Homo sapiens: one gene and its partners. The protein of the gene in region 5 purifies or fractionates together with the protein of the main gene of each other region. This does not show direct contact. Each region holds a gene or a part of one and is shown on either strand. Other genes may lie near its edges. The genes, in order: EIF2A, SUB1, KLHL42, HSD17B4, PAK4, ARHGEF11 and SPIN1.

Region 1 (4,404 bases), on a different chromosome or scaffold from region 5:
TGAAAAATCTTGGTGCCTAACAACATTAATACAATTAATTTACTCTATCCTATAGTAGATTCAAATGACAATATCAACTTTCAGTTAAAAAGAAAACTATTAGGCCAGGCATGGTGGCTCACGTCTGTAATCCCAGCACTTTGGGAGGATGAGACAGGTGGATCACCTGAGGTCAGGAGTTTGAGACTAGCCTGGCCAACACGGTGAAACTCTGTCACTACTACAAATACAAAAAAATTAGCCAGGCATGGTGGCAGGCACCTGTAATCCCACCTACTTGGGAGGCTGAGGCAGGAGAATCGCTTGAACCTGGGGGGCAGAGGTTGCATTAAGCCGAGATTGCACCACTGCACTCTAGCCTGGGCAACAAGGGCAAAACTCAGTCTCAAAAAAAAAGAATTTTGCAGGTCTTCACATGGTTATGCCACCAACCTGATATAAAGCTAGAATCACTTATTTTAGTTTCCCAATTTTTTTTTTTTTTTTTTTTGAGACGGAGTCTCATCTTTTTGCCCAGGCTGGAGTGCAATGCCCTGATTTTGGCTCACTGCAACCTCCACCTCCGGGTTTCAAGCGATTCTGCTGCATCAGCCTCCCGAGTAGAGTAGCTGGGATTACAGGCGCCTGCCCCCACACCCGGCTAATTTTTGTATTTTTAGCCGAGATGGGGTTTTGCCATGTTGGCCAGGCTGGTCTTGAACTCCTGACCTCAGGTGATCTGGCCTGCCTTGGCCTCCCATAGTGCTGGGATTACAGGCGTGAGCCACCGGGCCCAGCTTTTAATTTAATTTTTAAATTTAAAACAATTATATGGTCCAAAGTCAAAACTATACCAAAGCTCTTTCACAGATGTGTCCCCTGCATCCTGTAACTCTCTCCCCCGCATTCTGTAACTCTCTCCCCCTATAGATAAGCATTTTTAACTAGTTTTTGGTTTACTTGTCCATTGTTTCTTTGGGGAAAAAAAAATTAATCTAGCTAGCTATATACTATGTGCATATATATGTCCTCCCTTTTTAATATCTTTTTCATTATGATTTCACTAAGATTACTGGCCATGATTTGGCTATCAAATTTGCAAGTTTTTCTCATTCCTTAAGATACAACTCTTGTAAAATAAAGGCTTGTATTCAATTACACTAGTGTCTACACTTTTTCTTAGTATTGTTCCCCCTACCTTATAAATAGGCTTAAGTTACTATTTTCAGATCTGAAGATCATTTTCCTTGATAGAGAATATGTATTCTTTTCATCTTCGGTAAATATTATACAATAAAAATGAGTTCATCTGTTCTTTTCCTTTCTTGTTCAAAATACACCACCAACAAAACCATTTTAGATTGTACTGTATGTTCCCTATAACATTACTTAACAAAATAAATCATACCTTGGAAACACTGTGCTTTCTGTAAAATGTGGTGGTCCATTCACCATGTACAGTCCTTCTGATCCTCGGACTAAAGAAGTAAAATAAAAAGAACCACAATTACTTTGTTAATAAAGACTCAGTTAACACAAATGTGTTTTTTAAAAAAGCAGCTTTAGTCAAAATATTAATGAAATCATTAAATATTTCATTGAACTATAGAATATTAGCAACAAAAGGGCATATTTTCTTACTCTGTTACATAAAATCATATAATTGCTGAGAAATACGTAACTTTTTAAATAAAACTCGAAACTTTGTCACCACTGAAAGAAAGGCAGCTGTCTTGTGGTAAAGAGGACATGAATTCAGAGCCTGACCTAAGTTTATAACTGCCTGTGGAACCTTGGATACGTTACCACCTCTGAATCTGTGACCTAATCTGTAAAATGGAAATATCAGAACACAGGATAGCTGTATGCTTTATATAAAGTAATAAAAAAAGTATATGTTTAAAGTTTTTAGAAATATAAGGCAATATTAATATATTCACAATTTATCAAACTAAGAGAACAAGTGGAATGAGACATATTCATTTATTAAGGCCCCAATGACAGTAATAGCCTAAAAAATTAAGTGGAAACAAAGTTCAAGATTAAATAATCATCTACAGAACTAGACTATACTTCTTATTTCTATGTTTAAATTTATTTATTTTTTTGAGACAGGGTCTTGCTGTCACCCAGGCTGGAGTACAGTGGCATGATCAAGGCTCACTGCAACTTCAAACTCCTGGACTTAAGTGATGCTCCTGGCTCAGTTTCCCAAGTAGCTGGGACTACAGGCATGTGCCACCCTGCTTGGCTATTTTTTTTTTTTGTAGAGACAGAGTCTCACTGTTGCCCAGGCTGATCTCTAACTCCTGGGCTAAGGCAATCCTCCCTCCTCAGCCTCACAAAGTGCTGAGATTACAGGTGTGAGCCACCGCACCTAGCCTAGACTATACTTTTTTAAATGGTTGAATTAAATGCTTCTAAAGCTGAACCAAATAAATAGATTCATTTAGTCAACAAATGCTTAGTGGGAAAAAAACGAACAAACTACCTCCTAGGCCCTGTGTTGAACATTGGCGAAATAATAGGAAAGAAAATCAGCCTTGTCTCTGACCTCATTGAACTTTGCAAACAGTAATCAAATAATTGGCCAAATATACGGAATCATATACCTGTGTTTAGTCCTTCAAAGGAAAGGTATATGGTACCACTGAGGGTATAAAAGAGAGTTTTAACCTAAAAATGGAAGGTTAGGGAAAGCATCCTTAAGTGTTTTGTATACTGAGATGTAAAGGATCAATGGCAGTTAACAAGCAAGGAGAACAGTTAACAAGTGCAAAAACCCCATGGAAAGAAAAACGACAGAGCGTCAAGGGGATGGAAAGAAGGCCTGTGTGGCTAGAGGATGATGAAGCTGGAAAACAAAATAGGGCTCAGGCTAGGCGTGGTGGCTCACACCTGTAATCCCAGTACTTTGGGAGGCCGAGGCAGGCAGATGGCTTGAGCCCAGGAATTCAAGACCAGCCTGGGCAACATAGGGAGATGCTGTCTCTACAAAAATTAGCTGGGCACGGTGGCACATGCCTGTAGTCCCAGCTATTCGCACGGCTGAGGCAGGAGGATCACCTGGACTTGGGAAGTCAAGGCCACAGTGAACCATGATCATGTCACCCACCACCAAGCCATGTTAAGTTTTATATTTCTTGTAGAGACGAGGTTTCACTACATTGCCTAGGCTGGTCTTAAACTCCTCAGCTCAAGCAATCCAATCTGCTTCCCTCAGCCTTCCAAAGTGCTGGGATTACAGCTGTAAGCCACCTGGCCCAAACTGACATTTTGTACTTCTAAGATGCCTTGCTAGATTTAATTAGTTTTTCTATTAAATAAATTTAATAAAAGCATATACAGTTTAATTTACTCCTGATAAGCTGTGATACAAAGTTTATTAGAAAAAAACACAAAATCAGGTCCATAACAGAACATAAACTGTTTTAAACTAATAAAAGCAAAAATAAATAGGGACTAAAAAACTTCTCAATACTGAAACAATTTTTTTCTACATGTAACTTTCTAACAAGGAATCCTTTTTAGTTACAAGTATCTGTGAAACTAAATACAATGCGTAGTTAGCTTAATATAGTGTATTCTGAGTTTGTGTGATTCCCTGTTTTTAGTGATTTCCCTCTTCAATCAAATGGGATTGGCAATATGTTCTAGCAGAAAGAAAAATCTAGAATGCAAGCAGTTCTTTTAAGACAACAAATAAACGCCAGTTTCACACAGTAGCTGTGTGAAATACATTAAACATCTACATAATCTTTTCCAAGCTTACTAGCCTTTTTAGACATTCATATACTATTTATTGCTCTAGGCCTGAGTTAGAGAGAGAAAAACACAGGGCTTCAATAAACAAGGATCCCATGGCAGGGGTGTAGTCATCTTTAAAATACGATACTTTTCCCAACTCTTACATTCACTGAACTATGTATTAGTTTAGGAAAATCACTCAATTTTGAATAAATTATCTCTGTGACTTCAACTGGTCAAGCAGATTAGACAATGTGAATTTCACGTAATGGACATTGCTGTTTTATGTGCCTAGCAACCAGCTCCTCTTCTTTAGGAGGCGCTCATTTTCTTTTGAGGAGTATCGAGGAGTGGGAAGATAATTTAGTCCTGACTACATGATTAAAAGTTGACTGATACAAAGGTGAGCCAAGCAAAGTCAAAGGCAGCTAGCCTTGAGATTTTTGCTGAGACTACTGGCAAAAATGTGTTCTTTCCTTTGGAGCTGGGCATTTGGTTGAATGTCAGTTTAAAGATGAATTTAATCTGGAGGAAAGCAAGAACCTACAGATGAAGAAAAACAGATTTCTGGCCAGGCATGGTGGCTCACACCTGTAATCCCAGCACTTTGGGAGGCAGAGGCGTGTGGCTCACCCGAGGACAGGCGTTCAAGACCAACCTGACCAACTTGGTGAAACC
Region 2 (4,404 bases), on a different chromosome or scaffold from region 5:
GTCATCTTCTAAACAGAGCAGCAGCAGCAGAGATGATAACATGTTTCAGGTAAAGTTGGCTATTTTTTTTTTTTTTTTTTTTGACATGGAGTCATGCTCTGTCACCCAGGCTGGAGTGCAGTGGCGCCATCTCGGCTCACTGCAACCTCAGCCTCCTGAGTTCAAGCAGTTCTCTGCCTCAGCCTCCCGAGTAGCTAGGATTACAGGCATCCGCCACCAGACCTGGCTAATTTTTGTATTTTTAGTAGAGATGGGGTTTCACCATCTTGGCCAGGCTGGTCTTGAACTCCTGACCTTGTGATCCAACTGCCTCAGCCTCCAAAAGTGCTGGGTTTACAGGTGTGAGCCACCATGCCTTGCCAAAGTTGGCTGTTTCTTTAGATTCAGAGGAATTATTATCTGGCTTGATCTGAAGAATGTTAAAAGTACTATGATCTGATAATTGCCTAATATGTATGTTACAATCTTCTTAACTAGGGACATTTATTAAAATAGAACAAACTAGTAAAAGTATTTTGTACGATGCTGGATTATTGTTAAAGTCTCTAAAGTCTAGTTTTGCTGTATTTAAACCAATGCAAATTTAATTGAGAACTGCACATTTTGAAAGCAACTTGGAGGAGGCAGGTCAAGTGTTGGGACAGTAAAGTATGAATAGATTATTATGGGACAGGAAGCAGCAATGTGACATGCCTAATTTTGGCCTGATGAGCAACAGAAAAGGGGAATGGGTTGAATAGATAAAGTGAAGGAAGTTCATTAGAGGGACTTGATGAAATCACCTAGAGAGGACTCGTATAGCTTTTTCTCTTGGGTTTCCTGTCTTGTTTTAGGGAGACTTGACACTGGCATCTTTGTACAAGAAGGATTTGTGAGGAAGGGATGTTGGGGAATAAATGAATGCAGGTGAGATTGCTTAGGTAATTGTAGGCTTTAATCTGTATGTGAGGTGATAAGGGCTTAGATGGTTTTTCCTAAAGAAGAAATTATGCCAATTACAAGATACAGGTTAGGAAGAATGGACCAGAGGAATTAGGCAGTCAGTGAAGATGTGGACTTGATTGTGGATGTGATTGAAAAAAAAAATGGTGTTGCTTCTGTAGCACCTGAAGGGCTTAGTTGGGAAATGTTCATGTGGGATTATCAGCATGGTTGACTAAAGCTGCCTACTGAAGTATTAAACAGAGGAAGAACAGGAAGCAGATGAGGGGATGTCTTGGGTTATATTCAGATAGAGAATGGAAGGAAAAAGAGGATGTAGGTTAAGAGAGAGGGTGAAGGAAAATTAGAAGAGTGCAGTAATGGGAGCAAGAAAAGGATGAGTGTTTCCAGGAGCTATAAGTATTAGTTGAAACCAAAAAGTTGGGTGGAACGAGACTACAATTTTTTTTTTGAGACAGGGTCTCTGCTCTGTCACCCAGGCTGGAGTGCAGTGGTGTGATCTCTGCTCACTGCAACTTCCGCTTCCTGGGCTCAAATGATCCTCCTGCCTCAGCCTCCTGAGTAACTGGGACTACAGGCAATGCTCCATGACGCCTGGCAAATTTTCTTTGTTGTTGGTAGAAACAGTATTGCCCAGGCTGGTCTTGAACTCCTGAGCTCAAGTGATGCGCCCACCTTGGCTTCTGAAAGTGCTGGGATTACAGGCGTGAGCCACCGTGACTGGCCAAGACTGTAGACATTTATATGACTAGAAAGTAAGGCTAACACATGTATATTTTGACCTGTTGATAACTTTGAAAGGTGGAGTGCCAAGATTAAGGTGAGAATGGGAAAATTTAAGTTTTTTTTTTCCTATTGCTTATTTTTGCCTTGTTATACTTCTAGGTAAAAAAGATAGACAAAGTGCAGATGAACTATTTAGTTCAGAACACACATTTTAGAGATTCTGTTCTGTTAAGAGGAGTTTTGTGAAAACTAGATCTAATTTTAGGAATTTTCTCACCAGAAAAACGGAGCTTCATTTCTTAAACCCTCATCTGGAAAGATTCCTAAGCCTCCTAAGGCTGACATTGCACCTTTTGAAAGCCTGCCTCTAGGAGGAACATAGGTCATCTTTTCTTTTTTTTTTTTTTGAGACGGAGTCTCGCTCTGTCACCAGGCTGGAGTGCAGTAGCACGAATCTCGGCTCACTGCAACCTCCGCCTCCTGGGTTCAAGAGATTCTCCTGCCTCAGTCTCCTGAGTAGCTGGGACTACAGGCATGCGCCACCACCCCCAGCCAATTTTTGTATTTTTAGTAGAGACGGGATTTCACCTGGTTGGCCAGGATGGTCTCGATCTCTTGACCTCGCCATCTGCCTGCCTTGGCCTCCCAAAGTGCTGGGATTACAGGTGTGAGCCACGGCGCCCAGCCTAGGCCTTATTTTCAGAGTGGCTTTCATGGATCTAGTAGTGTAGGCATTATGAAATAATATGATACTTAATTTCATTGCCATTACAGCTTGATGTACATCAAACATCAATACATAAGCAGTTCTCTAAATGTATTAAAGAGTTGTACCAAAGAAAAATCAATAGACTTATCTTTTAAAGTCTGAAGTGATTGGGGCAGAATCGTGACTAGAGAGAAGATACTAGAGATGCTTACTTCCTGGTTCCTTCAGCTCTGATTTTGAAGAACTTTCTTCCATAGGGATGTAGTCTACCTGAGGTGACATCTGTGATAGTAAAGAGACTGGAGAATTATCTCATAATTATTTAGTACCTGTGTCTTGAAAGGTCAGAATAGTTGAGGCAGGAAACTTTAATCCATATTTTTCTTCAGAGTTAGGCACAAAGGGTCAGTAATACTGCTTTAGTTTATTTGATGATTTAAGGATACTTGATACTTTTAAATTATTTAATTTAAAATGATTATAACTGGTCATTTTAATCTGGGGCAGGAGTCCATAGAATTGTTTTTTAATTTGAGTTTTCTTTTTTGTGTTTGAAGGAATTATTCATAACCTTTATCACAGGGGTCCCTCCTGCACAGGAGGTGAGCGGTGTGTGAGTGAACATTGCAGCCCGAGCTCTGCCTCCTGTCAGATCAGCAGCGGCATTAGATTCTCATAGGAGCGCGAACCCTATTGTGAACTGCGCATGCAAGGGATCTAGGTTGTGCGTTCCTTATTCCTTATGAGAATCTAATGCCTGATGGTGGGATAATTTTTATCCTGAAACGATCACCTTTCCCCTTCCCTACCTGCTGTGGAAAAATTGTCTTCCGTGAGACTGGTCCCTGGTGCCAAAAAGGTTAGGAACCACTGCTTTATCAGATCTTCAGAGGGGACAGGGAATCAAATTCGTATAAGAATCACAGTTCTTTATGATGTATATGCTATTTTTTGCTGCTAATCTCCAGATTTTGTGGATATAAAATATATTGTCATCTGATTTTATTTTTTTCCAATAAAATGTGATTTCAGTGATCTTTATTTTTTCTATCTTTAAGTAATATATCCCTATACTACTATCTCATCACTTGTTTAATTTTTGCTAATAAGAATTTGTCAGTTTTACTCTTTTTTTCCCCCCAAGGGAGAGGCAGCTGTTGGGCAGATTCCTTTTTTTTTTAAAAAAAAAAATGTTTTTGAGGTATAGTTTATGTCCAATAAAACGCACACATTTAAAAGCATACCTTGATAGGCTGTGGTAAATGTACACGCCTTTGTGGCCAGACCATTTTCATCACCCCAGGAAGTTCCTCTTGGCTTTACAGTCATTGCTCATGTCCTAGGTAATCACTGATCTTATTTCTACCACTATAGATTTATGTTGTCTCTTCTAGAACTTTGTATAAATGGATACATGCAGTCTATTTTTTGTGTCTGGCTTTTGCTCAGTATAATGTGTTGAGATTAGTTCTTGTTGCATATATCAGTAATTTTATTGCTGAGTAGTATTTTGTATGATAATACTACAACTTGTAAATCCATTCACCTTGGGTGGACATTGGGATTGTATCAAGTCTTGGGCTATTAGGAATACAACTGCTGTGAATATTCTTGTACAAGTCATTTTGTGGACATTTTTTCCCTTTTGGGTAAATACCAGATACATTTGCTGAGTCGTAGGGTAAATGTGTAACTGTATAAGACACTGTCAAACCATTTTCCATAGTAGCTGTAGCATTTTACACAGCCATCGGTACTACTTAGGAGATTCCAGTTGCTCCACATCCTCGCTAGATATTGTCAGTCTTTTAAGTTTTTTTCTTTTTAGTTACATTGAATGTATAATGGTAGCTCATGGTGGTTTTACTTTCCATTTCCCTCATGTACATGTCTTAATTCATTGTACATCTTTAGTGTGTTTATTGGTTATTTTTATATCTTTTGTGAAGAGTATCTTTTGGCCACTTAAAATGCCAGGTCATTTGAGTTGTAACACTTTATATATTTTGTCAGATGTAAGTATAATT
Region 3 (4,404 bases), on a different chromosome or scaffold from region 5:
ACAGAGAGGGCATCATGGTTGGATTTTAAGGACCATTGGCAGCAAGAAAGGTAAGCAGCAGGAATCAGGGACCCCCCAGTACCTGCCACCCTGACGTCTGTTGGCACAAAAAAGTGGGCTGGCTGGCTGGCTGGCTGGCTTTAAGGGACAAGACGAGGCTCTTGATGAAGAGTACTCTATTCACGCTCTGATTGGAAAAACAAACTAAAACACATTTAGATATAAACATGATAGGAACCTTTAAAAAATCTTAACTGTTTAGTAGGTGCCTATTACTAACCTAGTTTCCATAGTGTAATGCATCAGTTTTATTGAACACTTTTTAGGGGATCAAGCATGGGCTTCTTGTTTACTGCTTCTTCTTAATCTACTCCCTTATATAAGTTTTTTGTGTGTGCATAGCCTCTACCTCCATTCTTTCTTAGTATATTATTATTTTTGAAGACATCATTGTGTTGGGGTTGGATGTGGTCTTGAAATTCACTTGGTCTAGCACCTTTATTTCAAACACTAGAAAACAGAAATTTGAATGATAGTATTTTATCTCTGTGTAGTAGTTTCTGATAGACTATTTGATTTAATCATCTCTACCACCTTGTGATGGCTGTTACCCCATTTTACAGATGAGGAAGTGAGGTGGTTGGACCAGGGTCAGATAGCTGGTTATCAGCAGAGCTGGGACTAGAAGCGAGGTCTTCTGATTTGTGCTCAGGTTTTTTTCTGTTGCATCATGCTGCTGCTCATCCTCTTGTAAACTTGTGACTGTTGCACACCTCACAGCAGACTGACCCAACACTCCCAAGAGTTTATCCTTCCTGCCTTTTGTGTGCTATATCGAAACAAATTAATTTTGTGTTACTATTCAGTTCAAAAATCATAAGACTTATTTAGTGTCTGAAGCTGATAAGCAGCATTTAATTATTTTCTGAATATAGAGCTGGAAACCATTGTCCATCTCTTTTTCAAGTTATTATTTTTATGAAAGATGAGCATTTGTCAATAGAAGTATTTGTTGAATTAACATATGTAAAGACCCTAAGAATGCTGGATCAAAATATTTTGAGGCTGGTTGTGGTGTCTTATAACTATAACCCTAGCACTTTGGGAGGCTGAAGCAAGAGGATCACTTGAGGCCAGGAGTTCAAGATCATCTTGGACAACATAGTGAGATGCCATCTCCACAAAAAACTGTTTATAAAAAATTAGCTGAGTATAGCTGAATATGATGATACATACCTGTAGTCCAAGTTACTCGAGAGGCTGAGGCAGGAGACTCTCTTGAGCCCAGGAGTTCAAGGCTGCAGTAAGCTATGACTGTGCCACTGCAGTCTAGCCTGGGTGACAGAGCAAGACCCTGTTTCATAAATAAATTAGTAAATAAATAAATACAAACTGTGAATTTGTTCAGTGCTGACCTCTCCCCATCTTACATGTTGTGAAGCAGTATGTTAGATGCCCTTGGAGGCGGGAGGCAGGACCAGTGTCTTGCTCAGGTATACTCGTTGTGCAAGGATCTCCTGACCTACCCTTTAGCAGTCACTCCTCGCACCTGCCTGTCTCGACAGCACCAGTGTGTCCCTAAGATGAAGCCATACTACTCAGTAGGAAGAATGAAATACCCATTCTGAGAGGTGAAAGACAATGGGGTGATGTGGGTGCCTTCCCCTCTTACCCTTGTGCCTGCCCCTGAAAGAAAGTGTGGAGTTTAGTGTATACACATTGTCTTTGGTTGCTGGACTAAGGCTGAACAAGATTAATAACTTGTTGTATTGAACTGCTTATCTTCGATAGCTAGTGTTTGGACAGTGTGCCATTCCCGTGGAATCTTGGGGACAGGAGTGAGATTCGAGAAGCCATCCTTTCCTCCTCTGTCCTCAGGCGGAATGGCCCCCAACTGGGAGAGCGAATTTTCTTCAGATGTTCAGGAGAGTCTAGTAGTTCATGCCATTGTTACACTTTTCATTGATCAGAAGAACTAACTCTGTGGGCCTTTGTGTCTCTCTTTCAGGTCTAACTTCAAACTTGTGGCTGTTAATTCAAAACTCTATGCCATCGGAGGGCAGGCCGTTTCTAACGTTGAGTGTTACAACCCCGAGCAGGATGCGTGGAATTTTGTGGCGCCCTTACCCAATCCTCTGGCTGAGTTCTCTGCCTGTGAGTGTAAGGGAAAAATTTATGTCATTGGAGGATACACTACCAGAGGTAAGTGAAGGGACCAGGTAGGTGGTCTGCCCATGTGTAGGCGTCAGCAGTCTGGGAAGGGCAAGAGGGTGTCAGAGGAAGCCCCGACATATCCGAGTGTCATGTTATGCTTTAATAGTGTACACTTACACATCTGGAAGGAAGAGAGTTCCATATGGCAGGGATGATTGGGACAGGAGGGATCTTTTGATAACTTTGTGTGAGCATGAAAATCGAATGGGGAAGGGAGAGCTGTGAAAAAAAAATGTTATCTCTTTTTTTTTGCTTCTGGAAACCCAGCTTTTTGGTCAGCCGTCTTGTGATTTGGCTGGGCCTGGTTTGTGGGGGTCGCTCTCTGAGGTTGGGTAGCTCTTTGGAGAAGATTATCTGGGAACTCCCATCCTTATCCCAAACATACACCAAACCTGCCCCCATCCACCATTATGGAATTTAGTACCAGAGCATCCTTGCAGATTAGTTCTCATTTTCTCTCTTTGTGAGCACACACACATCAGGTAGAGGTTCCAGAAACCCAGCTTTAGGACACTGTTCACATATCACAGGAGGAGCAAGGACATGAATACAAGAGAGCTCTTTCCTGACCAGCAGTGGGAGGTGGTTGTACTATCTATTTATTTGTTTATTTATTTATTTATTTTTTGAGATGGAGTCTCCTTCTGTCACCCAGGCTGGAGTGCAGTGGCGTGATCTCGGCTCACTGCAATCTCTGCCTCCTGGGTTCAAGCAGTCCTCCTGCCTCAGCCCCCCAAGTAGCTGGGATTACAGGCTGCACCACCATGCCCCGCTAATTTTTGTATTTTTAGTAGAGATGGGGTTTCACCATGTTGGCCAGGCTGGTCTGTAACTCCTGACCTCAGGTGATCCACCTGCCTTAGCCTCCCAAGGTGCTGGGATTACAGGTGTGAGCCACCGTGCCCGGCCTGGTTCCACTATTTATTAAAATGTATATATGTGTTTTTCACTTTTTTGGTAGGCATTTTATTGTTAATAATTTGGAAATTAAAAAAATTTCTCCACAAGCTTATTTTTTGTGGAGACAAGGTCTCCCTGTGTTGCCTAGGCTGGTCTTGAATTCCTGGGCTAAGTGATTGTTCTGCCTTGGCCTCTCAAAGTGCTGGGATTACAGGCATAAGTCACCATGCCCTGCTTGCCAGCAAGTTTTATACTGCTCTTTTTGGTAGGGAATTGTCTCAGGTTACAGTGATAGAGAACAATGTAGTTGTTGGTGGGATACAGTGGCTCATGACTGTAATCCAGCACTTTGGGAGGCTGAGGCAGGAGGATTGCTTGAGGCTGAGAGTTGAGGACAGGCCTGGGCAACATAGCAAGACACCTTCTCTAAAAATGAAAAAAATTAGCTGGATGTGGTGTCATGTACCTGTAGTCCCAGTTGCTTGGGAGGCTGAGGCAGGAGGATCACTTGAGCCTGGGTGTTCAAGATAGGCCTGGTCAACACAGCAAGACCCCTTCTCTAAAAATGAAAATAAAAAAATTAGCTGGTTGTGGTGGCATGTACCTGTAGTCCCAGTTACTTGGGAGGCTGAGACAGGAGGATTGCTTGAGCCAGGGGTTTGAGGCTGCAGTGAGCTATGACTGCTCCCCTGCACCCCAGGCTGGGTGACAGAGTGAGACCCAGTCTCTAAAATAAAAAAAAAAAAAAGAAAAGAAAAAATAAAACTGTGGTTGTGGGAAGACAGACAATGGGGGACAGTCAAGCAGAGGGGTGCCTTTCCTTCCCTCTACTCTCCAAAGCAGATGTCTCCAAGTTACCTCTTAGCCAAGGAAATCTATTTCTGCATTTGGTCTGTGTGACTCTATGGAGCCCAGGACTTACAGAAAAGGTGTAACCTGGCTCTTAGGACTTTAAGCCACATTATGGTAGTAGACCTGCCGTTTTATTTGACATGGTGAAATAAACTACCACTCCTTTGTGGTACCATATGGGCAGGACAGAGCTCTTCAACCCTGGCTAACAAGCCTGAAGAAGACCCTGTGAGGCCGCAGCAGCCATGGGAACTTCCCAAAGGACAGAAATCCACATGCTAACGTAGCATCCAGATAGGTGACAGAAATTCCTTCCACCATATCCAAATGTGTCCTGTTTTGGGGATTTATGTTAGGAAGAAGTTAAAATGTAAAGTATTTGATGAACATCTGATTTATTTCTTTTTAGAATAAGTCGAAACATTAATTCAGTGGGGA
Region 4 (4,404 bases), on a different chromosome or scaffold from region 5:
TTCAGATAAGAGTACCTATGTTTTAATTTTCAAGAGCAGACTATTCTGTAGGCCACATAAATCCTCTGATTCTTTATCTCCCTTATGCCTTTATGTCATCTTTCATTTCCTCCGATTTTTTACCGTTGCTTAGAACAATAAAATAGGATTCAAAGGGTTTACTACAACAACTTCTGGCTGGGTTTAGAAATTAATAGTAATAAATACTATAAAATATGTTAGTTATTTATGAAATATCTCAGTATCATATTATACTTACATATTTCACTCATACTAAACAAAAAATAAACATCACTATCCATACAATAAACATTATTTTAATAGAAGGTAAAGCATCAATTTCAGAACCTTTTTTTTAAAAGGCAGCCATACTATTTTCTAAAACTATGCTTTCTACATGGCTTTTAGCACTCATTCCAACATATACAGAATCAGGCTAGTTATTATGTGTTATTGACTATACTAGAAGCTAGAAATAGACAAACTGCAGCCATTTCTCAGGATTAAGCCCAAAGTCAAATGAGAGAAAACATACAATTATAAATGACCATAATACAGTAAGATAACTGTGACAAGCAACAGACTCTGCTGAAAGGGAATTCAGGGACTTACTGCTCTACCTCCTATCCATTTTCATCTTTTCAACCTAATTGAAGAATCTCTAGGAAAATAAAGGTGAGGTTAGAATATTCCATAATTAAAGTGTGTGCCATGATTAAGGATGTGAGTTACACAGCAGATGCAAAAGATCTGACAGAATATTTTTTCTTTATTCTTTTTATCCTCTAATTTCTCTTTCTTCACAAAATGGTACCAGGGTCTCTTTGGACCTCCACATCAGTGAAAAGAAATATGACTGCTTTCTTTCTGCGGCAAGATGTTTTATATTGGGTGCATGGCACTCTAATAGATAATTTCCCTAGATTAGATAAACAAACACCTTTGACCATAATCTGTATATATCTAGAAAATAGTGATTTTATATTGATAATTAAGATAATCCAAATTATTGTTTTGGTATGAATAAAATAATTTTGTAACTGTCAAATATCATGACTTAAAAATACTTCATTTTGACTTGATGAATTTGCCTTATGTTTAAGAAGCTGAAGATTAGATAAAGATGCATATAGCCAAGATGACTGTTTAAACTACTTTCAAGGATTACAATGAAATCTTAAAACAGGTTATTTTCATTTCAATTGATTCCCTACATCTCTTACACACACACACAAACACACACACACACACACACACACACACCCCCCTTTGGACATTCCCAAACCTATTCATTCCCACGGGAAAAGAAAAAAAACTTACCTAAAAAGGTAAGATTTACCTACCTTCAAAGGTCTTTAATTGTTAAAAAGATACTTTATTTACTAAGAATTACCTTAGAATATTATAAAATCAGGGCTATAACTTACTCCACTTAGCCCCAATATTTCCGCCTTTGGTTATATGCCACTCAAATACAGCATTTACTTTCTTCACCACCTCAGGCCCAATATCCTTTAGGCGGCGTCCTATTTCCTCAAATACAAAGGTACTCTGAAGCTTCCCGCCCTAACAACGACAACAAAATAAACTTTAAAAGTTCTGTAAAAATAACTCATGGAGAAAAGTGATTATAAAACATGTGCAAAAAAAAGATTTTTTAAAACTCTGTACATAAGTCAGTTTTCTTCATACAATGTGTCTTTCATACTTTCTTATTTGTATACATCACTCAGAACCTCAGTCCTCTTAATAACAGGATTTTACTTTTATTAGAATTCAGAAATAATATTTTAAAAGAAAAATAGGAACTGGACAACCTATGTTTTAGCTAACTTTAGAAAGATCCTGATCAAATTAATCAACTTCTATGGTCTCATTTTTTTTATTTATAAAATAATACTAAATTACATGAAGTCTGAATTTCTTTACAGCTCTAAAACTTAAGTTTTGGGTTTTTTTTGTTTTTTGTTTTTTTTTTTTTTTTTTGAGACAGACTTGTCGCCCAGGCTAGAATGCAGTAGTGCAATCTTGGCTCACTGCAACCTCCACCTCCCGGGTTCCCGTGATTCTCCTGCTTCAGCTTCTTGAGTAGCTGGGATTACAGGAGCCTGCCACCAAGGCTGGCTAATTTTTGTATTTTTAGTAGAGATGGAGTCTCACCATGTTGGCCAGGCTGGTCTTGAACTCCTGACCTCAAGTGACCTAACCACTTCAGCCTCCCAAAGGGCTGGGATTACAGGCGTGAGGCACCGAGCCCGCTCTAAGTTTTTTTTTTTCTTAGACTATTCTTAAGGGATTTTAATTTTCAGTCAGTTATATGGTTTATGACAGACAATTAAAGATCATGGGTATCGAAACCTCAACATTACAAAGTTAATATTTCAGAGATAGAATATAAACATTTTTATCAAAAGTCTCAGCATGCTAATAAATAATACAATGTTTTAATAAATTATACACGCTGCTGGTTTATATATTTGCATACAAAACTTTATATAAACCTTTAAATCAAGAAAAAGGTACAGGATATTCAACTTTTTAATCTATTTTTCTCCAAAACGCTGTTTGCTTAAGATTCTGATTAAACAACTGATTTATTTATTCTAAAACTAGAAAATTATGTTCTCTTGAAAGATATCCTAGTATCCTGCAAAACGAGTTTTTTAAAGTTCATAAATTGCCAGAGTATTCCTTCTATTCCAAGCTGTTTTGAATTAATGTTTTTCACTTCAAGAATTAAGAATAGTTTCATGGTTGTTAATTTTCTAACGTAGCCTAACCACTCTTAAAGTCACCTTAACTGAAATTCCTAAATGAGGAAGTGGCTTGGATACTAATTTTTATAACCTACCTCAGAGGGTGTCTTAGCTGAAGTACCAGATGTTGGTGCAAGATCCACATATGCATTTGAAATGACAATGTCTCCAGTTTCTTGGACCTTAGGAGGAGAAGAAAAAAAAAAGATTTATTCTGATTACAATGGAAGTGTAATTTCACTGTGAAACAGTACAAAGTTTAAAATTTATTATTTTTGCCTCATATGAAAAAGAATATAATAATCCAGATAAAATAAAAGGCTGCTAAAGTAAATGTCAAGATGAACAAACATAAAGGCTTTCTGATTTAATACAACTGTTACTAAACCTGGCTTTATAATCAGCTGGAGCCCTTTAAAACAAACAAACAAAGAAACCCTATGAGGTCCCATCCCCCAAAATTCTAATGTAAATACACTGATAGAGACTGGGCCTTGGTATTTTGGGCATTTTTTGGGGGGGAAGTGGGGATCAGGGGATGCACTCTTATAAACAGAATTCAGTCCATGCTGAATCCTTATAAATAGTAAAAGGCATAGCACAATAGCCACATGAGGTAATGGTACTCAAAGTACATTTGTTCTGCTAATATAGAATAAAATTGGCTAGGAACAAATCATAATAGTGTTTTTTAAGTAGTAATTCCAGGTCTTATTTCAAGAGGAAGTGTACACAGCATGAACTAAATGTCTAAATAGGCTTTTATCAAAATAGTCATTAAAGGAATTCAAATTCTAATTCCCAGTCCTTCATTTCAAATTATTCCAATGGCTATTCTTTCATAAAAATTGTTATTGCTACAAATGTATAGGATAAGTTTCTAAAGTTTAACATAGCGTTTATTAAAACTTTGATTTTTAACAATCAAGAAGATCATTCTCTTGACTACATCTCATCATATTTTGGAGGAAAAAAGATCTTTCAAGTAATTTGTTCACTTTACTTCAAATTACATACATTGAAAAGCATGGAAAGAGATAATTAATGAACAAAATGCACTTCAGTAAATTACTTTATTGTTACCAAATCAAGCAAATCATTTTAAAACACTGGTTTAAAATGTTTCTTATATCTTAAGAATAGAAAGGAAAGGAGGAAGGGAGGGAGAAAGTGAGAAAAGGAGGCAGGGAGAGAAGGAGTCCTAAAACTAATAGAAAAAGAATATCTATAATCACTGAAGAAAAATATAGCAAATATGCTGAAAAGATAAGACAGCATGCTTAGAATTTAACAAAATGGCAAGAATACATTATATTTAGACATTTAATCATTTCTCAGCCCTTCAAGTTTGTATCCATAGAAATTATTTACATACTATTCATCACCAGAATTGCAGGAAAATAAAAACCTGTAATATAGTCATGGTCCTTAACACTTTTAGAGTTCATAATCTTAATCAAAAAGCAAAACTTACTCATACAAAACAAATTAGAAAATGTGAGGGCTCCAAAATATGTGGCACAGATATTAGCTGCAAAGGCTTTCAGAGAACACCAATTTGAGTGTATCTATGGGTAGGAAAGTGGGGAATAGTAAGAGACTGTCTCTAAGAGCAAAGTGGAGCTTGAACTTAAGCCTGAAGGACAGG
Region 5 (4,404 bases):
TGGGAGAGGTGGAGCCAGGGGAGGGTTCCTGCCCTGACCAGGTGTGCACGGCTACCTCTGGCTGTGTGCGGACAACTGTGGGGACAGTGGGGGAGAAGGGAGCAGGGAGCACGCCTCAATGGTCCAGGAGGGAGATGAGGGTGGCTTGAACTAGGGGGCCACGAGGAAGAAGGGTAACAAGGAAGGGGGGTAACGAGGAAGGGGGATGATGAGGAAGGGGGGTGACGAGGAAGAGGGGTGACAAGGAAGAAGGGTGACGAGGAAGAGGTGTGACCAGGAAGGGGGTGGCGAGGAAGGGGGGTGACGAAGAAGGGGGATGACGAGGAAGGGGAGTGACAAGGAAGAGGAGCCCGCAGCACCAGGTTACATTGTCATGTAGAGTGACAGGCTTTCCAGACACTTTGGATGTGGCGGGGGGGCAAGAGAGGAGTCAAGGTGATAGGGTGCCAGATTTGGAGAAGCCTAATCCCGAAACAAGACGAGGGATGGGGGTTCCTGTTCCCAAAATGGGGTCACTGTGGGAAGATGGGGGCCGGGAGCCTCCAGCCCGGCTTATCTTTCTGTTGCTCTGCAGTCGAGGTCTGTGTTCCCACTGGACTGAGCTCGGGGAGGGCTGCCTGTTGTTTGGGTTCACCCTTCAGTCGCTGGGCCCCAGCGCAAAGCTGGTCAAAGAATACACGCTTGGGCAGGGCGCAGTGGCTCACGTCTGTAATCCCAGCACCTTGGGAGGCTGAGGCAGGTGGATCCCTTGAAGTCAGGAGTTTGAGACCTGCCTGGCCAACATGGTAAAACCCTGTCTCTACTAAAAATACAAAATTAGCCGTGCGTGGTGGCACATGCCTGTAATCCCAGCTACTTGAGGGGGTGAGGGAGGAGAATGGCTTGGATCTGGGAAGCGGAGGTTGCAGTGAGCTGAGATCGCGCTGCTGCACTCCAGCCCTGGTGACAGAGCAAGGCTCCATCTCAAAAAAAAAAAAAAAAAAAAAAAAAAAAAGAATAAGCACTTGACTCCTGTCCACAGAATGGGTGAGAGTCGGAATGGACAGGAGCAAGGGGAGGACAAAATAACATGAGGGGCTCAGCCCGATGATAACCAGTGGTGTTACTTTTGCAGGAAAAAAGAATAAAAATGTTCCAAGGTCAACCAAAAAGTCTGACGGTACCAAATGTTGGTGAGGAGGTGGAGCAACTAAGATCCTCAGTCACCACCGCTAGGAGGATACACAGATTTGACCACCTTGGGAGGCTGTGTGGCAGCGCCCACTAAATCTGAAGCTACCCCACCCTCTGCCCTGGGCTACGCACTCCTGGGTATATTCCCTGAAGAAACGCAGGCACCGGCACCCCAGGAGATGCTACAAAGAGATGGCTCGCATCAGCGCAGCAGGAGATGGAGGAACAGAATATTATATGGGGCTGGGCACAGTGGCTCACGCCTGTAATGCCGGCACTTTGGGAAGCTGAGGTGGGTGGATCACCTGAGGTCAAGAGTTCAAGACTCGCCTGGCCAACGTGGTGAAACCCCCTCTCTACTAAAAATTAAAAAAAAAAATTAGCCAGGCATAGCGGTGTATGCCTGTAATCCCAGTTACTCGGGAGGCTGAGGCAGGTGAATCGCTTGAACCCAGGAGGCAGAGGCTGCAGTGAGCCAAGATTGCACCACTGCACTCCAGCCTGGGTGACAGAGCGAGACTCTGTGTCAAAGAAAAAAAAAGAATATTATACAGCAACAAAGATGAATGACTACAGATACACTCAGCACACAGATGGATCTCACAGGCCTAAGGGCGAAAGAAAGCACAGACAAGGACATACTGGAAGATTCCATTTATGTCAAGTTCAAAAGCAGGCAAGATGACATTCTGTAATTCAAGGATGCATACCTCATGGTAAAAACTATCAGGAAAAGCAAGGACACAGTGACCACCAAGGTCAGGAGAGCACTCACGACTGTGGTCGTGATGGACAGGGGTTATGGGCAGGCGGCTTTTGGGAGGTTGTGTTCTGTCTTTACCGAGGTGGTGGGGAAGCGTTGTTCACTTTGTAATTCTTTGCTAAACTTACCTGTGCATTTTATGCACTTTTCTATGGGCATATTATAATTGACAATTATTAAAGGTTTTTTAAAAGCAGTGGAGTTAGAAGCGCTGTGTATATATATAGCATTTGAGAGTCAAATAACGTGGGCCCAGGCTGCAGTGGAAGATTTGCGGGGAAGGGACGACAGAACTATGGAGGCCCCTGTGGGCGGCAGGGAAGGAGGGTTCCTCGGGAGAGAAGGACAGGGGCCTCCTGTGGGGAGGGCAGGGAGGGGTCTTCACCTGGGGACGGGTCTGTGGAGGGGCCAGTGGCCCGCAGGGTCCTACTTTCTCCCCATGGCCAGTGCTGACCGGTGACTGTGGGCGCAGTGAGGGAGGGAAGGGAAGGGGAGGGGGGCTGGCACCCCACGCAGCCCAGGAAGACCGGCCGCCTTCCGCCTCTGGGAGTGAAGTGTGGGAGTGGCAAAACCGGGCTGGGAAGTGAACTCAAAACCGCTGCACAATGCTGCTTTATCAGGAGTTCCCAGGACAGGTGGCAGGAGCAGGGAGGGTCTGGGACGGGGAGCTCTCTAGGTGAGGACCCTGCCCACCCGGTGCTCCCAACCCTCAAGGTGTCTGCTCGAAAGCTCCTGGGCAGCCTGCCTGGAATGCAGACAGCAGAAGGTGGGTGGGGGAAGCAGGAGGGAGAGCTTTGTAACCCTCAGGCTTAGCCCCGGGTAGCAGGGGAAGCGGCCACAGCGATTACCAGCCAGGCCTCCAGCATCCAAATCCCAGTTCCTCTTGCTCTGTGACGGGGCCAGGTCCCCCAGGCTCTCAGTCTCCTCCCTAGAAAAGGGAGATCCTAAGAACACGTGTGTCTTGGAGTTGATGGGAGGGTCCAGTAGGTTAGTTCACAGAAAGCACTCAAACAGTGCCTGCTCATATTAATAACATGGCTATTGGTGACATAGCTATAATATTAATAATACGGCTATTAGTAACGCAGCTAACAGTCTTTGAGCACTTACTATACATTTTGCCTGCCGAATATACATTTAGATCCTCAAAACAACTCTAAGAGTAGATATCATTAGCACCCTCATTTTACAGATGAGGACACCCGGGCACAGAGAGGTGATGTGACTTGTCTGGGGTCACACTGCTAGTAAGAGACAAAGCTGGCTCCGGAGGCCAAGCCCTTGACCTCTTCTGTGTCAGATGGGTTAGGAGCTCCAGAACGGAGCCAAGGTTTGAGTGCCACATCTGCCACGTATTTGCTGTGGGACTGCTGGCCTGTGCCTCAGTTTCCCCTTCTCAGAGAAAGTAAAATTATCAGGAATAGACAGCTCCAAGAAAAGGAAGCTCAAGATGGCTTTCAACAACACAAAGCTGTCCCACTTTGCTCTGATTAAAATCAGAACCATGATGAGACTGTTTGTCACCTATCTGACTGGCAAAGGTGAGAATGTCAGGTGACACCCGTCTATTCCAGCAAGGGAGTGAGGAAACCCCGGTGTCATCAGACACTGGGGGGTGGGAGTGTGAGCCAGACAACCTCCCCAGCAGGGTGAAACACTAACACTACCGGCAAAGTTAACGGGGCACCTGTCTCAGACCACGAGGCCACAAGCTCAGACTCACACCTAGAGACATATGCACAGCCACACTCAGGCGGGCGCAGCCCTGTTCACAGCACGGAAAGATGGGAATGGCCTGATGGCCATCAGCACAGAATGGCTGTGCTGTCCGTGGGGGCACGCGTGTGCGTGGGACACGAGGCGGCACTCTGTGTCCTGACAGCGAGCTTCGGAGTGGGAAACGCAAAGCACAGGACAGAATATAAACATGGGAAGTCCGCTCCATTTGAGTAAAAACAAAAGGGAGGGGCGGGCACTTGGGGGAACAAATATTTCAAGAAAGAAAGAAAAGAAACCGGGGGTGATGATGCTATCTCTGGGAAGGGCCTGGCAGGCGGGTGGGAAAGAGATTTGCTCGTCCCTGTACATCCTTTTGTGCTGTGTGCAGTTTTTCAGTGATTATTTAGGGGAATAGGTAATGCATGCACATGGAGGAAAAACGTGCTTTCTGAAAATTGAAACACGGGAAAAGAGAAACGAGGTTAAAAACACCTCCTCCTCAGGGTCTCTGGGTACAGCCACATGACCATGCTCATAGACTCACAGCACACGCGTGCCTGGCACGTGGAGCTGGGACCCCGGGCGGGGGGCTGGGGTTATTACAGCTCACTACGGGATGAGAACCCAGAGGGGGACAGGGTGCAAGGGACGGAAACCATCGAACGCACCAAGTTCAACATTTACCAAGCACTTACTGAGTGCTGAGCATCGGGCTAAGCACGACGCACACACATGATCTTCCGCCCTCC
Region 6 (3,403 bases), on a different chromosome or scaffold from region 5:
TGGTTACAGTCTTGGTGATGTGGCTGCGTCTGTGGGAGGATGTGGATGGATGATGACAGTGATGAACTGGCCAGGCCTGAGGCAACCCTCCCACTTAGATTTGGCTTTTAAAGTCTTCAAGCTCATTGAGGGCAGCTCATGAGACCTCTTGACTCTGGGTCCACTGCTCCTTTATATACACATATATGTGTATATATATGTGTGTGTGTGTGTATATCTATATATGTGTGTATATATATGTATCTATATATATATCTGTGTGTGTGTAACTGAGTTCAGTGTCTTGTCATGTTTTCTCCATGGGGGTTGTACAACTTAAGTTTGCCCAGTCCCTAGTTCAGTGAGTGCACAGCTGAAGCTCTGGGAGGGAACAGGCAAGATCTGGGTCTGGGGGTGAGAGGGCTCCCTCTGGTTCCCACTATCCAATCCTAACCAGTCTTACAGGGAACAAACACCGTACCTTTTATCACAGCGATTCCAAGAAACACACACACCACCACTGAAGGATATTTAACTTTTCTTAAAAAAAAAATCTTAACCATGAAAGGAAGAAAATAAAAGAGTATACATTATCTTAACAGCAGAACAGTCATTTCCATATCTATATTTTATATATTATATATATATTTATATATATATATATGTATATATACACCTAGCACAGTGTGTATATTCTATTCATCAGGGAGAGTTGGGTGAGGACGTGGTGATGGGGCCAATGCTGCGGTGGCCCCTTGGATGGTCCTGGGTGAATTCAGGGACTCGGCATTCAGACCCCTGTCCCCACCTCCTGGGGCCCAGTCCTCAGCTCCGTACCTGCTTCACTGGTTTTCTACAGGGACAGGGTGGGGAAGAGGGGGACATAGGTGGGGTAAGAAACCCCCATGATCCCCATCTTGTGAAGATGAGAAGTCCAGGGAGGGAGGGAGTAGCTTGGCAGCAAGCTGTGGAGGGCAGGCTCTGGAGCCAGGTGGGATGGGGAGCCAGAAGACCTTCCCACTCACAGGGACAGGAACACTCAGGCCTGGCTCCCGCTTTAGGCTCGATCCTGGAACTGGGTTGTTAACTAAGGAGATACAAGTGAAACCCCTCTTCCCTAAGCAGCTCCTTCCATAACTGCCTCCAGCACTTCAGGAACAGGAACAAAAAAGGTCAAAGTTATTTACAATAGCAAAGATGCACATACGATACATACATATTTATAGGAAACCAAAGTGACAAAGAGGGGAGGGGAGGCACCCACCTCTGCCTGGGGTCTTATGGAGAAAGAGGGGAGGAAGAAAGTGCATTTACACAGAAGCCTCCTCCTTTCACTTGCATGTCTGAGGGCAGCGCACATACAGGCGTGCGCGTGTACACACATATGTGGGGTGAGGGCAGACCATGGTGAGTGGGGGCCTTTCGGATGCAGTCAGCATGCTTAGGAGACATGAGGCCTTGGAGGGTTGGGCTAAGGGAGGGAAAAGACACTGAAACCTGACTCCGACTTGAGCAGACCAAGCAACATGCGGGTCTCCCCCCGGGCCTTGGCTGGATCCTAGTTTCCCTAACTGCCTCCTCCACAGGGAGGAGTGTTGGGATCCCCCCTACCCTGTGCCCCGGTCTCAGGCCAGTCCCTGAAGGAGGAGTGGGGACGCAGAGGATTTGGTGGTTTGTACGGTTATGGTCCTGGTGACGCGGCTGCGTCTGCTGTGCTGTCTTCCAGGGGGGCGTCAGAGCCTGTGGGAGGAGGATGAAGGTGAGGAACTGGCCAGCCTGAGGTGACCGCTTCCACATGTTTTGTCTAGAAAGTTCAGGCTCACGAGAACAGATCCTTCATCACCTTCCTTCTCCTCCAGAAACCCCAGTTTCTCGTAGGGCTTGAAAAGGGCTGTCTACTGAACTCCACTTTCATCAGCGCCTAAAGCCCTTAGGTCAGGTAGGTATGTGCCTTGTCTTCCTGAGTTATGACATAGCTGTGTCCCTGGCCCACCCAGTGTGGTTCTGAATCATTTAATCAGCACGAGTCTTAGGCCGACACCATGGTGTGCACCTGCAATCCCAGCTGCTTTGGAGGCTGAGGTGGGTGGATCACTTCGGCCCAGGAGTTTGAGACCAGCCTGGGCAACATAGCCAGGCCAGCCCTTGTCTCAAATAAATAGAAAAAAAAAAAAAAAAAATATATATATATATATATATATATATATAAAATTAAAAAAAGAACAAGTCTTAGAGGTGAGAACAGGCTCCTCCTGGTTTGTTACCTCCATAGCACAAGGAAAAAGAGGGCTCAGTGCTAAGCTCCCCATTTTGCCAGGGAGCTTCTGTGGGACTTCCCTAAAAAGATCCCTCTCTGAAGCTGAGAGAATGAACTCGTTTCACTCAAGGGGAAACCACTCTCAGAACCACCATCTCTCACTGCTTAGTGATGTGTCCTCACGAGTTGGCAGACTTCTCCCCCAATGGTAGGAACCGAGAGGGACCTGGCTTCACTCACCATCCTCAGGGCAGGGCCCCAGTTCATGGCTGTTCCTGGAGTCAGAAGCTAGGGGCTCCTTAGCGGGAGGTGAGAGGGAGCCATCTGTCCATCTAGCTGCTTCTGTGTGGAAACTGCCCACAGGCGTGGTGCCACCAGATGACTCTCCCCCAAGGGACTTGAGCAGCTCTCTGTGGGCCAGCTCCATATCCTGGAAGAGTCGGCGGGGGAATGTCTGCTCGAGTCCTTCTATTCCTAAGGCCCCTGGGGAAGGGGTCTGTGCTGGGCCTTGGGGAGGAGGGTGTGATTTAAGGGTGGCTGGGCGGGCTGGGGGAAGATCCCTGGGCCAGGACAGGATCTAGGGCTCCCGCGAAGACACACATCTCACTCATGGGGAATGGTTTTGGGGTGATGGACTGAAGGCCTGCAGGGACCCAAGCCCTGCTTCCCTCACCTTGAGCCTGTTGAGCTTGAGAGTGAGCTGCTCAATGGTATGGAAGATCATGCCCACGTCCCTGAGGGCCAGGCTTGGAGGAGAGCGGCTGGGGCGTCTTGGATCATCGTTGCCTCCCTGCAGCTGAGGCTGAGGCTCTGTCTGCCCTGCAGGGAGGCTGTCAGGCTGAGGGGGGCTCATGGGTGCCTCTGAGTGGTCGGTGCTTGAGTCCGGGGGTCCTGATGGCATGCTGACATAAAAGCAGTTCCCTGTCCCCACAGTAAGAGAATGAGATCAGGAGGCAAACAGAGAAGTCGAAGCTATCCTCCCGTTCCTGTGGGATTCCCCAGCCACCTGACAGAGCAGGCCAGGCAGTCCTCTCCAGACAAACTCAGAGAACGTGGGCCTTGCTCACTGTCTGCCAGCCCCCTAAAAGCCCTGCTCCCGAGACCTTCTAGATGACACTTGCTCAGTCTGGCCCCAAGCTGGGGGAGATGCTGAGCGATGAACTCAAG
Region 7 (4,404 bases), on a different chromosome or scaffold from region 5:
TTGTTAAGCTGTAATTCGCGCTTTTCACTCTCTCTTTTTCTCAATTACACAGTGGAGTTTCCCACTATCTATTTGGAAGATTTGCATAACTTAGTGAACACAATATTTTCTTTATGAGCAGTGCATGGTACCACATCATGCATTGGTGAAAGAGCTATTCAAAGTGCAAGACTAACTACTTTTTTTTTAATTGTAAAAAAACATAGCATAAAATTTACTGTCCTAACCATTTTTAAGTGTACAGTTCAGTAGTGTGTTAAGTACATTCGCATTGTTGAAACAGATCTCCAGAACTACTTCATCTTACAAATCTGAAACTCTCTACCTATTAAACAAAACAACCTACCTTTCCTCCCATTCCCAGCCCCTGGCAACCACCATTCTACACTCTGTCTCTATGAATTTGACTATTCTAGATATCTCATAGAAGTGGAATCACACAGTATTTGTTTTGTGAGTAACTTATTTCACTTAGCATAATGTCCTCAAAGTTGGTTCATGTTGTAACGTGTGACAGGATTTCCTTTAAGGCTGAAAAGAACATTCCATTGTATCTATATACCACAGTTTGTTTATCTGTTCACCCATTAATGGACATTTGGATTGCTTCTACCTCTTGGTAGAATGTAAAATTGTACCATGTAAAATTGTGAATAGTGCTCCTGTAAACATGGATATGCAGATATTTCTTTGAGATCCTGCTTTCAGTTGTTTTGGATATAGGCACAGGAGTGGGATTGCTGGATCATATGGTAATTATAATTTTAATTTTAGTATCGTAATTCTAATTTCTTAGGTAGAACTACCATACTGTTTTCCACAGCAGTTGTACCATTTTCCAGTCCTACCTACAGTATACAAGGGTTCCAGTTCTCCATCCCTTAGTCAGCAGTTGCTATTTACTGTTTTTGTCATAGTGGTCATCCTGATGGGTGTGATACGATACCTCATTTTGTTTTGATTTGCATTTCTCTGATGATTAGTGATATTGAGCATCTTTTTATGTGCTTGTTGGCCACTTGTAAATCATCTTTGGGGAAATATCTACTCACATCCTTTGACCATTTTTTAATTAGGTTATTTTGATTTTTGTTGAGTTGTGAGAGTTCTTTATATGTTCTGGAGACATGAGTTTTAATGTAACAGTATGACAGATTTATTAATGGTTTCAGATTCTGCATTGTAACTAACCTTTAAGGAGCTAACTGTTGAATTCTGTGGTTTCATATAAGTATATCTAGAATTATCTGAAAGACGATTAGAATATTCTTTTCAGTATCATATCTTTGAGAGGCTGGATTTTATACCTGAACTGAAAGAGCAGATCATAACAGATTGAGTGCTAAAGCAGATATGAGAATCTACTTGTTCTTTTTAAAACCTAGACATTAGGAGATTTGCAAAAATGTAAAATTAAGCCACTCTTAATGTATTTTGATAGGAAATAGTTATTTTTAATTTAAAATGCATTGATATATAGGTATTTTTAAATAAATGTTTCTAGATTTGTTTTTCATTTTCTGAAGTAGTAAATATTGGTAGGCATTATCTATGTAAACAGATGCTTTTTTAGGTCTGTAGTAATTTCCATTTATGTTTTAATTTTTTTTTTAGAGACAGGATCTCGCTTTGTCACCCAGGCTGGAGTATAGTGGTGTGATCAGGGCTCACTGCTGTCTCAACACGTTGAGCTCAAACAGTCCTCCTGCCTCAGTCTCCTGAGTTGCTGGGACTACAGGCACTCACCACAGTACCCTGCTAATTTTTAACTTTTTGTAGAGATGAGATCTCATTATGTTGCCCAGGCTGGTCTCAAACTCCTGGCCTCAAGCAATCCTCCTGCCTGGGGCTCAAAGTGCTAGGATTATAGATGTGAGTCGCTGTGCCCAGCCAGTAATTTTTAAGAATGCACATGGAGTTCTGAGATCTAAGTCTGAGATCTACTGGCTTTAAGAAACTAGTGGGGTTTTTTTACTGTCATACACGGGGGGAATTCTGTGTAATTTTTTATTATTACTGCGTACTTAAAACCAGCCATACATGTTTAGGGTTTGCTGATAAAATTAAATAGCAATACATGTATCAAGAAAATCTCACTTTTTTGTTTCTTTTGATGTAACAGAAATAGAAGTTTGTTGAATGAGGAAAATAGGAGAGCTAATTGTTTGTTGTTGTTGTTTTTGTTGTTGTTAAGACAGGGCCTCACTCCCGTAGCCCAGGCTGGAGTGCAGTGGCGCCATCTTGTCTCACTGCAGCCTCGACCTCTGGGTTTAGGTGATTCACCACCTGAGCCTTCTCAGTAGCTGGGACTACAGGCCTGCACTGCCACACCTGGCTAATTTTTTGTATTTTTAGTAGAGACGGGGTTTTGTCATGTTGCCCAGGCTGGCCTCAAACTTCTGGGCTCAAGTGATTCGCCCGCCTTGGACTCCCAAAGTGCTAGGATTACAGGCGTGAGCCACCGTGCTTGTCTCTAATTGTTTGTTTGTTTGTTTGTTTGTTTTTTAAAGATAATTGTTTAAATTTGGTATAAAGACAGTTATCTAAAATTGTGGACTGGAGAAGTCTTAAAACCAATGGGATCCTTCATAGTTTTTCCAGTATTAAAAAGATGAAGGTGATAATTTTCACCACTTTTGAAAAATATTAAGGGCTAGGACCGTTAATCTATCATTTCAGAGACCTGAGCTCCCAACCACATGGGGTATCTGATTAAATCATACAAATACTGACCTGCTATGATCTAGGTATAAAACAAGAAAGGGAAGGTCTCTGCTTTCATGGGGATGTACAAGCAACTAACAAGTACACAAATAACATAAAGTGGGATAACTTTAGATCATGGTGAATGTTATTAAGAGGTAAAATTGGGTAATGTGACTGGGATTTGTGGGGCTACCTTGTTGGTCAGGAGAACTCCAAAAGGAACCGGCCTTCTGAAGGTATGGGGAAGAGCTTATCAGGCAGAGGAGAGTGTGTCCTAATGGGAGAGGAAGAAGAGCAGAGTAGAGAACGCATGAACAACAAGGAGGAAGATGGGAAACCTGAGGGCAGAGGCGTGAAGGCTTTTAGGGCTTGGGGGCTATGGTGAGCAGTTTGGTTGTTTTTCAAATTATAAAGGGAAGGCATGGGAACATTTTAGATCACACAATGTGGTATCAGTGACACAACGATTACTTTGGTTGCAGTGAAGAATAAGATTGTAGGAGCAAGAGAGTAAAAACCTATGCCTTAATAAAAAAATGGAAATAAGACTGAAGGAAAACAAACACCAATTTCTTTAAAAAAAAAAAACAAAAAAAAAACCCTCTGTGCCTTGAATAGCTTTTCTAAGTTTTAAATAAACGTTCTGTGGTTATGTAAGATGCTAATACAGGAGAAGCAAAGTGAACCGTATACAGGAACTCTACTATTTTTCCAGTTCTTCTGTAAGTCTGAAATTATCTCAAAATTTAACTGTTAAGTAAACAATAACAAACAGTATTTTATACCTTGAATGAACAATTAAAACTTTTGATTTGGGTACAGAACCAAGAGCAGATGAGTCCAGAAAAATAAAAAATCATATTTTTTTCAATTAACTGACTTGGGACAAAATACTTCTATTCTGTTGAATCCATCTCTGAGCTGGGGCCCAGTAGTTTGTCTTTGGTTTTTGTACTTTTTAAAGCTTTCCCAGATTCTGATGCTTGCTAATACGTTGCATGGACAAAATTTCAGGTGTAGCCTTCTTTAGTAAATTCAGTCTTCATAGTCGGTAATCAGCGAAACACTTTGTCAACTTTTTTTTTTTTTTTTTAATCCCCAGCGACATCTCGAATCAGCGATGCACACTTGGCAGACACAATGATTGGCAAAGCAGTGGAACATATGTTTGAGACAGAGGATGGTTCTAAAGATGAGTGGAGGGGAATGGTCTTAGCACGTGCACCTGTCATGAACACATGGTTTTACATTACCTATGAGAAAGACCCTGTCTTGTACATGTACCAACTCTTAGATGATTACAAAGAAGGCGACCTTCGCATTATGCCTGATTCCAGTAAGTATATATTGGCAACTTTTATATGTGATAATTAGAAGGGATTTGGACTTCAGTACAAGATATTTGATTGGCTCTTTTGCAGATACATTTTTATTTTTGGATATATGATTCTTTTAGTCATGCACAAACACAGCCTTTGAAATTTTTCATCCAGTTGTTATAAATGTTAGATAAGAAAATATTTGATAGTCAGTTCTGCTTGGCTTCTGTAATAAGATACAAGTTGTTTTATAATTATTAACACTACTACATATTACTTCTTGCTTTTATTTAAAAACATGATGGAATAGGGATCAGTAAAATACGTCCCCGTGTACCCTGCTCAGCTTTAACAGTTATCTCATCGCCTGTCTAGTTTT

What was found.
Region 1: the proteins of PAK4 (region 5) and EIF2A purify together in Homo sapiens (co-immunoprecipitation; one large-scale study listed by IntAct). This does not show direct contact.
Region 2: the proteins of PAK4 (region 5) and SUB1 purify together in Homo sapiens (co-immunoprecipitation; 2 studies listed by BioGRID and IntAct, with this or other methods). This does not show direct contact.
Region 3: the proteins of PAK4 (region 5) and KLHL42 purify together in Homo sapiens (affinity purification with mass spectrometry; 2 studies listed by BioGRID and IntAct, with this or other methods). This does not show direct contact.
Region 4: the proteins of PAK4 (region 5) and HSD17B4 purify together in Homo sapiens (co-immunoprecipitation; one large-scale study listed by IntAct). This does not show direct contact.
Region 6: the proteins of PAK4 (region 5) and ARHGEF11 purify together in Homo sapiens (affinity purification with mass spectrometry; 4 studies listed by BioGRID and IntAct, with this or other methods). This does not show direct contact.
Region 7: the proteins of PAK4 (region 5) and SPIN1 purify together in Homo sapiens (co-immunoprecipitation; one large-scale study listed by IntAct). This does not show direct contact.

The regions. Positions count from the first base shown.
Region 1 is NC_000003.12:150,549,409-150,553,812, reverse strand, and holds part of EIF2A (eukaryotic translation initiation factor 2A), read right to left. Parts: intron 1,458-4,404; coding exon 1,388-1,457; intron 1-1,387. UniProt on the Homo sapiens protein: Functions in the early steps of protein synthesis of a small number of specific mRNAs. Acts by directing the binding of methionyl-tRNAi to 40S ribosomal subunits.
Region 2 is NC_000005.10:32,591,637-32,596,040, forward strand, and holds part of SUB1 (activated RNA polymerase II transcriptional coactivator p15), read left to right. Parts: coding exon 1-49; intron 50-4,404.
Region 3 is NC_000012.12:27,789,700-27,794,103, forward strand, and holds part of KLHL42 (kelch-like protein 42), read left to right. Parts: intron 1-2,008; coding exon 2,009-2,202; intron 2,203-4,404. UniProt on the Homo sapiens protein: Substrate-specific adapter of a BCR (BTB-CUL3-RBX1) E3 ubiquitin-protein ligase complex required for mitotic progression and cytokinesis. The BCR(KLHL42) E3 ubiquitin ligase complex mediates the ubiquitination and subsequent degradation of KATNA1.
Region 4 is NC_000005.10:119,528,428-119,532,831, reverse strand, and holds part of HSD17B4 (peroxisomal multifunctional enzyme type 2), read right to left. Parts: intron 2,939-4,404; coding exon 2,852-2,938; intron 1,567-2,851; coding exon 1,428-1,566; intron 1-1,427. UniProt on the Homo sapiens protein: Bifunctional enzyme acting on the peroxisomal fatty acid beta-oxidation pathway.
Region 5 is NC_000019.10:39,131,915-39,136,318, reverse strand, and holds part of PAK4 (serine/threonine-protein kinase PAK 4), read right to left. Parts: intron 2,133-4,404; exon of another isoform or gene 1,115-2,132; intron 1-1,114. UniProt on the Homo sapiens protein: Serine/threonine-protein kinase that plays a role in a variety of different signaling pathways including cytoskeleton regulation, cell adhesion turnover, cell migration, growth, proliferation or cell survival.
Region 6 is NC_000001.11:156,934,340-156,937,742, forward strand, and holds the end of ARHGEF11 (rho guanine nucleotide exchange factor 11), read right to left. Parts: intron 3,158-3,403; coding exon 2,910-3,157; intron 2,667-2,909; coding exon 2,477-2,666; intron 1,906-2,476; exon of another isoform or gene 1,792-1,905; intron 1,720-1,791; coding exon 1,661-1,719; 3' UTR 501-1,660; downstream 1-500. UniProt on the Homo sapiens protein: May play a role in the regulation of RhoA GTPase by guanine nucleotide-binding alpha-12 (GNA12) and alpha-13 (GNA13). Acts as guanine nucleotide exchange factor (GEF) for RhoA GTPase and may act as GTPase-activating protein (GAP) for GNA12 and GNA13.
Region 7 is NC_000009.12:88,464,564-88,468,967, forward strand, and holds part of SPIN1 (spindlin-1), read left to right. Parts: intron 1-3,808; coding exon 3,809-4,042; intron 4,043-4,404. UniProt on the Homo sapiens protein: Chromatin reader that specifically recognizes and binds histone H3 both trimethylated at 'Lys-4' and 'Lys-9' (H3K4me3K9me3) and is involved in piRNA-mediated retrotransposon silencing during spermatogenesis.